Linked DNA regions of Homo sapiens: region 1 is linked to region 2. Evidence: fine-mapped QTL for protein levels in blood plasma. A gene starts in region 2. The other region holds a variant in brackets. All regions are shown on one strand. Distances are between the middles of the regions. Region 1 overlaps CAPN5 (calpain 5). Region 2 holds the start of OMP (olfactory marker protein).

Evidence for each region. PIP is the posterior inclusion probability: the model's chance that the variant is causal. Protein levels are from antibody-based Olink assays in UK Biobank. Linkage for the fine-mapping came from a reference panel and not from the study's own genotypes, which makes the PIPs less certain.
Region 1: its variant is fine-mapped to the plasma level of the OMP protein (UK Biobank, PIP 0.96).

Annotation. Positions count from the first base shown.
Region 1 is chr11:77,112,747-77,118,109 of GRCh38, forward strand. It overlaps CAPN5 (calpain 5), which reads left to right. Exons shown (of 13, transcript NM_004055.5): 4 at 1-51; 5 at 1,496-1,688; 6 at 2,649-2,842; 7 at 3,480-3,557. Among named protein-coding and RNA genes, the nearest start is that of OMP, 13 kb to the left of the region's middle. RefSeq lists enhancers at 378-972, 973-1,568, 1,569-2,162. The variant G/C (reference allele first, on the strand shown) is at 3,431.
Region 2 is chr11:77,099,801-77,105,163 of GRCh38, forward strand. OMP (olfactory marker protein) reads left to right here and starts at 3,040. Exons shown (of 1, transcript NM_006189.1): 1 at 3,040-3,531. The coding sequence starts at 3,040. The coding sequence ends at 3,531. The region is part of intron 3 of CAPN5 (calpain 5); the gene reads left to right.

The DNA of each region.
Region 1 (5,363 bases), 13 kb after region 2:
CAACTCCCGCAATGAGTTTTGGTGCGCCCTAGTGGAGAAGGCCTATGCCAAGTAGGTGCCAGCAGCAGGCAGGTGGGTGGGAGGCCCAGACGGGGGTGGCACCGGATGGGCTCCTCGTGGTATTCCGTTAGCCAGGGCTTTAGGCACAGAGAAGTGAGGGGCTGGTGCAGGCACGCAGCAGGCTCAACCGCCAGGCCTGAGGGCATAGTCAGCTGAGCCTGTGCTGGGTGGGGTGGAGGCCTGGGCCCTGTAAGGAGAGGAATGTTGGTTACTCCCATTTTAGGGGGAGAAGACTGAGGCCCAGGCAACATCCTGTAGGTAGCTGGGGGCAGAGGCAGCACTCACATTTAGGACCATTCTCGAAGGTTCATGCTGCCATGCCCTGCCTGGGGCCTTGGTTGGGGAAGTGGTAACTGAGCTGGGGCCTGGTTGTGCAGGGTGGGCCACGTGCCTGCCTTCCCCGCCTGCTGGGCCTCCCTCTTGTCCACCATCCGCCTCTGCCTGGCTGACTGTCCATTCTGTCTTTGCTGACCCCTCCTTCTGCTCCGTGCCTTCTGCTTCTGTGTCCCCAGTGCCCAACACAGAGCCCAGCATAGAATGGGCACAAGCAAAGTTTTGCTGAGCTGTGGGGAACCCTGGGGAAGAGTGACTCGCGCAGGCCGTTGCAGGGCAGGGATACGCCTAGGCCAGGAGGGAGGAGGGAGGAGGGGCAGTGGGGTCAGAGGCCAGCCTCGCCAGCTCTAGGTGAGCCACTCTCTGGTTCCTCCTGCTAGGCCCATTTGTCAATCTTGCTGAAAAAATGTGTGTGTAGGGGCAGGAGCAAGGAGAGAGAGAGATAGAAAACAAGAGAAAGGGGGAGAGAGGAAAAGGAAAGACAAAAACTCCCAACATCAAAAACCCAAGAAAACACATTGGCAGGTTCCACTTTCAATCCTAAGAAAGGAAAGCCAGCCCCCTGGTGGCCACTGAGTCTCCACCACCTGGATGCAGGTCGACCCAGTGGCCTTGGTTGTTTTTTGTTTTTTGAAAAAACACAGTTTCATTGTGGTAAAATAGACAAAACATAATGCTTCTCATTTTAACCATATGGAAACATACAATTCAGTGGCATTCATTATGATCACAGTGCTATGGGCCATCACCACTATCTATCCCCAGAACCTTCTCATCATTCCCAGCAGGAGGTCTATACCCATCCGACAGTAACTCCTTCCCCTCCCCCTGACCATTGTTGGCACTTTGGAAAAGAGTTGCTTTTTTTTTTTTGGACAGCTGATTTTTTAAGATTGAGCCACTAAGGCTTAGGGGAATTTAAGCCTTATATGTTGGCCCGAGTGTTAAGAACTGGGTTCCAGTGTTGGCTCCGCCGTGGCCTGCTGCGTGACTGTAACAGGTTGTTTGACCCCTCTGAGTTTCAAAAACCTCCCCTATGAGGTAAAGGATGCAGCCTGGCTGGGGAGCATGAGCTGGGAAGTCTTTCCACATTGCTTCCCAGACTGGCAGGCTGTTACCAGGCCCTGGATGGAGGCAACACAGCAGACGCACTGGTGGACTTCACGGGTGGTGTTTCTGAGCCCATCGACCTGACCGAGGGTGACTTTGCCAACGATGAGACTAAGAGGAACCAGCTCTTTGAGCGCATGTTAAAGGTGCACAGCCGGGGCGGCCTCATCAGTGCCTCCATCAAGGTGAGAACACGGCAGTCCCCAGAGGCGACCCCTCCCCTTCACCCTCGCTGACTGAGATGGGAGACAACTGTGACATCCCACGCTCAGGTCAGCTCCTACGTATTCAGACCCTCAGCCTCGTGGGGGAGGGGAGAAGTTGGAAGGTGCAACCCCCTGCCCAGACCCTCTAGGCTGTGAAAAGCCTTTCCCGCACTGTTCAACCAAAACTTCTTTTCTGATCCTCTTGGGTTATGAACGTCTGTGCATCTGAGGGTGGTCCTGATTTCATTACTTGCTCGTGTTTTGGATGAGAAAGCTGAGGCCCAGTGAAAGCCAAGTTCAAACCCAACTTTAGCAGACCCTGTGCTGTGCTGGTAAACTGCCTCCAGCAAAGTAAAAAGCCCCGGTTTGTAGCATTTGCTAATTACTGTGGTGTAAATACTCCCACCATGGCTGATTTCCAACTACCCACATTTAACAACCAGCTATTAACAATATTCCTGGCCGGGCATGGTGGCACATGCCTGTAATCCCAGCTACTCGGGAGGCTGAGGCAGGAGAATTGCTTGAACCCGGGAGGCAGAAATTGTGGTGAGCCAAGATCGCGCCATTGCACTCCAGCCTGGGCAACAAGAGCAAAACTCCATCCAAAAAAAAAACAAAAAACAAAACAATGTTCCTGAATATTTAACAATTCCTGGAATATTTAACAATTTAAATATTCCCGAATATTTAACAACAGCTGAGCCAGTGCACGTGGGCCCCAGCATTCCCCTGGGCTGACCCACTATGGGCACCTTCCTTTACTGAGACTGCTGCCCATGGGGGTTTTAAAGCTCTGTGAACACAGCACTGCCCCATGACTGCAATTCCCATCCCATCCTGTAGGTCCCGTGCAGCCTCCTAGCCCTCCAGCACCTGAGTCCCTGGTCTGGGTTCCAGTGTGGCCCTGCCTCTCTGAGCAACTGTGTCCCTCCACAGGCAGTGACAGCAGCTGACATGGAGGCCCGCCTGGCGTGCGGCCTGGTAAAGGGCCACGCATACGCCGTCACTGATGTGCGCAAGGTGCGCCTGGGCCACGGCCTACTGGCCTTCTTCAAGTCAGAGAAGTTGGACATGATCCGCCTGCGCAACCCCTGGGGCGAGCGGGAGTGGAACGGGCCCTGGAGTGACACGTGAGGCCTGGGGATGGGGGTGCAGGCACAGGGCATGAGGGCTTGGACAAGGACGGGTGGGCTTCTTGGAGGAGTTGGCACTGGGGCTGGGCCTTGAAGGATCTGGGGGAGGATGACACTAGGAACGAAGAAGGGAGAATTACTTTGCAGTGGTTGTATGGGGTGATGGATTGAGCACAAGAAAGGCCTGGGGCTGGAGGCCATCAGGGGTGTAGAGACCAGCTTGGTGAGTGGGTGCGGGAGGGGAGCAGGGAGGGAGGCCACAGCCCTGAGCAAATGGGGGACTCCTCTGTGCTTGGCTTATGGCCCTGGTAAGGCCAAGATGGGAGTGGAGCCCAGGTGCTAAGTGAAGGAGCCCTCTTCACTGGGGGTCGCACCCCCCTTCCCCCCAGTCTGCAGCTTTACTTTCAGACCTCCCAGCCCCTGTCATGGTGGCAGCTCACGGTCCCTTGTGGGAGGAGACAGGCAGGGCTTCCTGGAGAGGGGCTGGGCATGGCCTCAGTGCCCCTGGCCACACCGTGCCGCTGGAGGCCTGGTGCAAGACTGCCCCTCGTGCCTCCTCGCCTTTGCCAGACAGATTCTGGTGGG[G/C]CTGCCTCTTAGACAGCTCCCTTTCTCCTCCCCGGCCCTGACACCCCAGCTCGGAGGAGTGGCAGAAAGTGAGCAAGAGTGAGCGGGAGAAGATGGGTGTGACCGTGCAGGACGACGGTGAGTTCTGGTGAGTGTGTATGTGCCCTGGGCGTCCGGGGCTGAGGGGGCTTCCCACGGGCCTGGCGGGGAGCACCAGGTGGGGAGTCAGGAGCCAGGCCTCTCCTGCATGCCCCATCATCAATTTGCTGTGTGGCCTTGGACAAGTCACACCATCTCAGAGCCTGTTTCCTCCTCTGTAAAATTAGTTGGGCAGTACCAGGCCCTTTCATCCCCACAGTCCCCTCTGCCGAACTGAGGGGTCCTGGAGCCGCTGTGGCACCCAGACCGAGCCTTTGGCATGCAGGTCAGGGAGCCGTCTAAGAGGTGGGCCCACCAGGATCTCCCCGGCAAGGGTAAGGAGGCATGAAGCACAGTCCAGCACCAGCAGTATGGTGTGGCCAGGGGCACTGGGGCTATGCCCAGCCCCTCTCCAGGAAGCCCTGCCCTCAGCCTGCCTCCAGGGGCCCTCTGGCAGCCTGATTTCTGAAATTAGGTAGCAGAGGCTCCTAGAGGAACTAGCTTCTAAGCTGAGACTTGAGGTACAGAGTAGGCCTTGGTGGGCAAGGAAGAGGACGTGGCTCAGAGGTGAGAGAACACAGCTGTGTTTGAGAAGGGAGCTAAGCAGGTACATGGGTGAGCTGGGAAGATGACAGCAGCTCAGCTTAAAGAGCCCAGTAATTGGCTGGGTACAGTGGCTCATGTCTATAATCCCAGCACTTTGGGAGGTCAAGGTAGAAGGATTGCTTGAGTCCAGGAGTTTGAGACCAGCCTGGGCAGCATAGTGGGACCCCATCTCTACAAAAATGAAAAATTAGCTGGGTGTGATGATGTACCCCTGTAGTCTCAGCTACTCTAGAGGCTGAGAGGGGAGGATTGCTTGAGCCCAGGAGGTTGAGTTTATAGTGAGCCATGATCGCACCACTGCACTCCATCCTGGGCTAAAGAGCAAGACCCTGTTTCAAAAACAAAAAGAAAAACCCCAGTAGTAATAAAAGTTCATCCTGCATTCATCCAGCCTGCATGAGTCCTGAATGTGGGCTAGGCTCAGTGTCACCCTTCAGCAGAACCTGATATGGAAACTCAGTCCCTTCCTGGAGGGGTATTGGCATCCTGTGTGTGCTGGATTCTGTCAGGGCCCCCAGGCAGACTGGGGGCAGATGGCAGTGGTCCTGGCACCCAATGATGAACCCTTCTGCAGGTGTCAGGTCAGCTGCTGCAGGAGGCCACCCAGGCCACTTTGCCAGTCTTGCTCAGGAGTCAGCAGATAAAAACACGGCAGAGCTCCTTGCCTTTAGAAAGAGTTTCTTCCAAAGGCCTTTCTCTTACATGTTCACGGTTAATTCACTGCCCCCTGCCCCCACCAGCTCCCTGGAGGCGTTCACAGTGTGCAGTGACCATAGCAACACCCTGGCCACCGCAGCAGGCTCACCATGGGGTTCCCACCATCCACTTACTCAGGCCTCTCAACAGCCATGGAAGATCCTGGATGCAGATGTGCTTTATAAACTGTACAGGGCAGCAGACAGTAGTTATTAACACCATTCACAATAGTAACAGCCAGCGTTTGCCAGTGCGTGCTCTGTCAGCCGAAAGTTGCACTGCCTGCTTTGATTGCATTACCTAATTCCTTCACTAGCTCTGAGATGGGCACCTGCTGTTAGATTCAGCCTCATTTTACAGGTGAGGAAACAGGTCAAAAGAGAGGTTAAGGGTCTGTGCAATGCCATGCCTGTGCCCTTGTGTGGGCTTAGCTCCCCTCTCAAAGCCAGCTGTGTTCTCTCACCTCTGGGCCATATGGACATATTAGGTTGTTGGGCTGGGGGGCCAAGAGCCT
Region 2 (5,363 bases):
GTTTTTTTTCCACTTGGTGTTAAAGAGGATTTTGCTTGTTTTGGTTTTTTTTTGAGTTGGAGTTTCGCTCTTGTCACCCAGGCTAGAGTGCAATGGTGCGATCACGGCTCACCGTAACCTCCACCTCCCGGGTTCAAGTGATTTTCCTGCCTCAGCCTCCTGAGTAGCTGGGATTACAGGCGCCTGCCACCATACCCGGCTAATTTTTGTATTTTTAGTAGAGATGGGGTTTCACCACGTTGGCCAGGCTGGTCTCAAACTCTTGACCTCAGGTGATCCACCCGCCTCGGCCTCCCAAGGTGCTGGGATTACAGGCGTGAGCCACTGTGCCCAGCCTTGTTTTGTTTTTTTATATGCATTTTTGCAATTACATCTGCAAGTTTAGAGCTTGCTTTTCTCCTCTGTATTCATTGCTACATCCAGCCTTGGGTGGGTCCTCCCAAGGTGTCCGATGGCTGAGCAGAGGTCTGTGGACATCAGTGGGCCCTGTCCCCAGCTGCAGCCTCCTGCATCCTGCCTGCTCCCTTGCCCACAAGCCTCAGTCCACCCCCTCTGCCTCCTCCCCTCCCTCTTCCATTCCTTTTCCCCCCAGGCCTTCCCTTGGCTCCCACCGCTCGTCCCTCCCGCCCAGTCTGTGAGACTCAAGCTCCCGTCACAACTGCCCCCCACCTTCGGCCTCCAGAAGGTCGGTGCCCCTCTGCTCAGACCCTCCCCAGGGGTCTTGTGCCCCTAAATCCTCATCAGTAGAAGTTGATCACACCCACCTCATCCCATCCCTCAGGATCCAGAAATAGGGGATCCTCCTTCCCAGTGCTGCCCGGACCACAGCGTCCCCATACAAGCACTTGGCTCCTTCACTGGACTCCCACCCTCAGCCCACTGTGTTGCTGTCTCCACCAGCCAGCTGCCCTGGCCAGTCACCTGGGCACAAAGGGCTTGGTTCCTGCCATTTTCCAGCCCATTCTACCCCAAGAACTGCTGTGTCCCAGGCTTTACTGTGTCCATGTGGCTAACGTCCTGCCCTCTCGCTTTGCCCTTTTACCCTTGTCTTAGTTCTCCATCTCCTTTCTATCAGCCTTCACCTTCAGCCGCCTCAGTCACCTGCTGCCATGCCACAGCCCGGGCCCGGAACTGCTCTCCCTGGAGGTCTTCAGCCAAAGGCCCAGTCTCTCTGACCTCACCTTCCAGCCATCTTGCTCACTTCATTTTGGCCCTGGCCAGTACCTGTGTACTGTCTCCCCACCTGCCCACCTTCCTCTTGGCCTTGGGCTTGTGTCCCGTGGTCCATCACATCACCTGTCCCTTGTCAGTGTCATTCACTCATTCATCCGTTCATTCATTCATTCATTCGATCATTCGTTCATTCATTCAACAAGCATTTCTGAGGCCTCTGTGTGGCAGGCCCCGTTCTGGTTGCTGGCCTAGAGTAATGACAAGACACACTTCCTACCCTCTCAGGACTGTGTGTCACAGGCAAAAACTGAGCAACTCAACAAATAAAAAGCAGAATGTGGTGCTGGGAAGGTTAGAAACAGCTCCCCCATGTGGAGGAAAGGGAAGCCTCCCATGGTAGTTCCTTAGCCAAGTTGTTCCCCTCTCCCCTGCCCCTCCAGCTACAAAGCAAAAGGTTCTGTGAGGATCAGGCAGTTTGACATCTAGCTGTATGGTTCTCTCAAATACCCTTGGGGGAATTTCTGCCAATGACCCCCAGAACTGACCCCAGGGCTTGCAGTGTGGTTTTAACAGGACCGGGTATTCTGTCTCCCTTGGTGCCCCTCTGCTGTTCAGGTAGCCCAGGATCCCACTGATTGATTAGCCACCATCTCACAATTGACCGTGCTTGTGGTCCACTAGACCCTTCAGATTGTTTTCCGTTGTGATACCTTGGCCTTGACTCTGTCCTCTTTTCTGTGTGTGGCGTGTTGTGGCGACGGCCGCTCCCCAACTCCCATCCCCACTCTCTCCCCAACTCCGGCTCCACTCACACTCCAGTTCTTTCATTTCCCCAGTATAAAGGCTGAGCTTCTGGTTCCGCCCCGGGCCCTGGGGATATAAACATTTGCCAGATTCTTCCTCGGCCCCTGGGGGAAACTGAGGATTAATTCAGGTGGAGTAAGTGGTGGGATTTGGGTAGAAGTGAAGCCTTGTCCTGTTGTGGCCATGGTGCAGGGCTGCGGCACAGCCAGCCATCAGTGTCATCCGGGTCAGTAATGCTCAAGGCACAGTCCCTGGCCCAGCAGCATGTCACCTGGGAGGTGGTTAGGAATGCAGATTCTCAGGCCCACAGAGCCCTGATAAACCAGGAGTTCTGGGAGGGGGTCCAGCAATCTGTGTGTTAAGTCCTGAGAGTGAGTCTGATGCTCACTCAAGTCTTGAGAACCACGGGTCTGGGTGAGAGATACGGTAGCTGGGCTGAGATCCTGTCAATGGGACTGGAGGGGAAGGGTCCCGGGGTGTTTGGGAAGCAGAATCGACAGGCTTTGGTGATTGGGTGTGGAGGAGTGAGAGGGAGGCGGGCGTCAGGGGTAGCTCCAAGGTTTAACTTAGGTGACTTCAGATCTCCAATCACCAAGCCCTCTCTGGTCCTGCCTTCTCCACCTGCTCCTGCGGGTCTTGCATCTTCTCCTGTGTACCTCCAGTGAGGAGTGGTCCCCACCACCCTCCCCATCAGTGCACTTACGAAGTGCTCTCATCTTCACAAACAAGCCAGCACCCAGCCCAGCCCTGGTAGTCAGGGCGGTTGCCACAGCAATTGACATCAGCGACCTGGTCCCCAAGGAACCTGCCACCTTCCGCCTGCCTGCAGGGCCTGCATTATCGCTTCTGCGGGGACTGGAGTGGAGGCAGATGGGGACTCCCACCCCTGACACACACCCCATTTTGAGAACTGAGTGGGGCTGGGAAGAGCCAGTGGCAAAGGGAGGGGAAGAGGGAAGGGCAGAAAGTAGGTGGGGCCCCCCTTTGGTGGCCTCTTCTCTCCACGGCCCCAGGCTCCAGCCCACTTGGGTCCTTGGCGTTGGTGGCAGCAGCACTTGGGCCATGGCGGAGGACAGGCCGCAGCAGCCGCAGCTGGACATGCCGCTGGTCCTGGACCAGGGCCTGACCAGGCAGATGCGGCTACGCGTGGAGAGCCTGAAGCAGCGCGGGGAGAAGCGCCAGGATGGGGAGAAGCTGCTGCAGCCAGCGGAGTCTGTGTACCGCCTCAACTTCACCCAGCAGCAGCGGCTACAGTTCGAGCGCTGGAATGTCGTGCTGGACAAGCCGGGCAAGGTCACCATCACAGGCACCTCGCAGAACTGGACGCCTGACCTCACCAACCTCATGACACGCCAGCTGCTGGACCCCACTGCCATCTTCTGGCGCAAGGAGGACTCGGATGCCATAGATTGGAATGAGGCCGACGCCCTGGAGTTTGGGGAGCGCCTGTCGGACCTGGCCAAGATCCGCAAGGTCATGTACTTCCTCGTCACCTTTGGCGAGGGTGTGGAGCCCGCCAACCTCAAGGCCTCCGTGGTTTTTAACCAGCTCTGACAGCAGCTGCCAGCTGCTGCTCTCCTCTAGCCCACCTGTGCTCTCCCCTGCCCCTGCCACTTTCCCCCCTGTATTTTTGGGGCCATTATTCTCGCTGCTCAGCCTGTCCTCTGCTTGCCCAGAGGCCCCCTGAGTCCCACACCTTTCCTCCTCTGCTTCTCCCTGGGGCCAGCACTCCAGCTCACAGGAAGAAGATTCTGAGGCTCCATAGCCTAGAAGCTGGACTGGCTGCTGCATTGCTATAGACGATAGAGGCCTACTAGGGGCCAGTGTGCATGGACAGTGAGGCCAGGGCCATCTGCCTTCTCTCTGCTTCATTGTGGGAGAGAGAGACTGAGAAAGACCAAGAGAGACACAGAGACAGAGATTGAAAAACCCAGCATCCACTTCCTCCAGAGTCAGGGAGACAGAGATGATGGGGCGTCTCCACGGGGAGTCCAGCAAGCCGGCATTCACTGCTCCCTGGCCTTGGTGCCCTTTGCCGGAGCCTGTGTCTGGGCTGCTGGTCCCATAACACGTCGACAACCCTCAGGATATGGGGCAGGGTTGCTGCAGGGGTGGATTTGGGCAGTGGAGAGTGGCTGGCACCCTGGAGGCTGTGTAGGCCCAGCTGTGGCTCTTCTGGGCCTGACTTCAGGGTGGAGAAGTGAAGGGGGAGGTTACACAGAGATCTGTCTCTACGCACACATATCCATGAGACAGAGTGTGCTGTATTCATATGGATGTATTCTAGAGGTCTATTCCTACCCTAGGAACAAGTGCAGTTTTAGATTATCTGTTCATCATTGCTGCTGGTTCAAGGATGGCTCTTAACAGGGGCCTGGTCCGGATGACCTTGGCCTGGGGGCTTGCTGAGCTAGGAGACTGCAGTTCAGATAGTGAAACAGGGAGTGGATTAGTAAAGGGGGTTCCCTTTGCCTTGAGGGAAGTTGGAGCTGGAGAGAGTGGATTCTCCAGGGCCTCAGGTATCCCCTGCTGGGGAGTCAGGCTCTTTAGAGCTTGCAGGTCAGGGAAGGCAAGTGCTTCGTCCTGACATAGCATCTGTTGGCATTTCTTGGGCTTCTTCAATGCAGCTGAGGGGGGCAGGGCGAAGGCGTGGTGGGCAGTTACGACGGCTGATAGTCCCAAGTGGGCTGCAGGCGGCAGTGGTGTGACGGCAGAATGGTAACCTCTGGGGTCATTGGATGCAACTCACTCACCAAACAGATGGGGAAACTGAGGCACAATTTTCATCAGATTCAGTTCTGACTCTTAGCCTCATTCCCCTTCGCATTGCGCAGTCCCAGAGAGCCCCCCCTTTTGGGGGAGTGCCTGACCTGCACCTAACATCAGCCAAGTACAGCTAAGCCACTGTCCCCAGCACCCTGACTTAAGGCCAGCCCTGTGTTTTGTCCTCAGCCAGTCAGGGATGTGTCCAAGACATTTCCCCTCATGAAGCAAAGCTGTCAAGGAACTTGCGGCTCTGGAACAGATGCACTGAGGGCCAGAGGGTCAGGGCCATCCCCTGTGGCTGGGGCTGCCGGGAGGGTGAGCCCCACCTCGGAGGTGTGCAGGCTGGAGCAGCATGCTGGAGCTGAGATTCTGTGGGTGAGAGAGTGGGAGAGTGTCTGTGGGCTGAGCACTGGTCCTTTCTGACTCACAGCTCTGGGGCCCATTCCGGGACAGGCTTGAAGAAGTCTCGGCCATTGCCTGCCCTGCTGAGCACGAGGGGAGGCCAGAACCGTGTGCAGTGGCCCTGCCCTTCTGCTTGAGCTCTTCCTGCAGCTCTGGGGACCCTCTTAGTCCCGACTGCCTGTCTCCCCAGCCTATCTGTCCCGGGGCCTGAGTCCCTC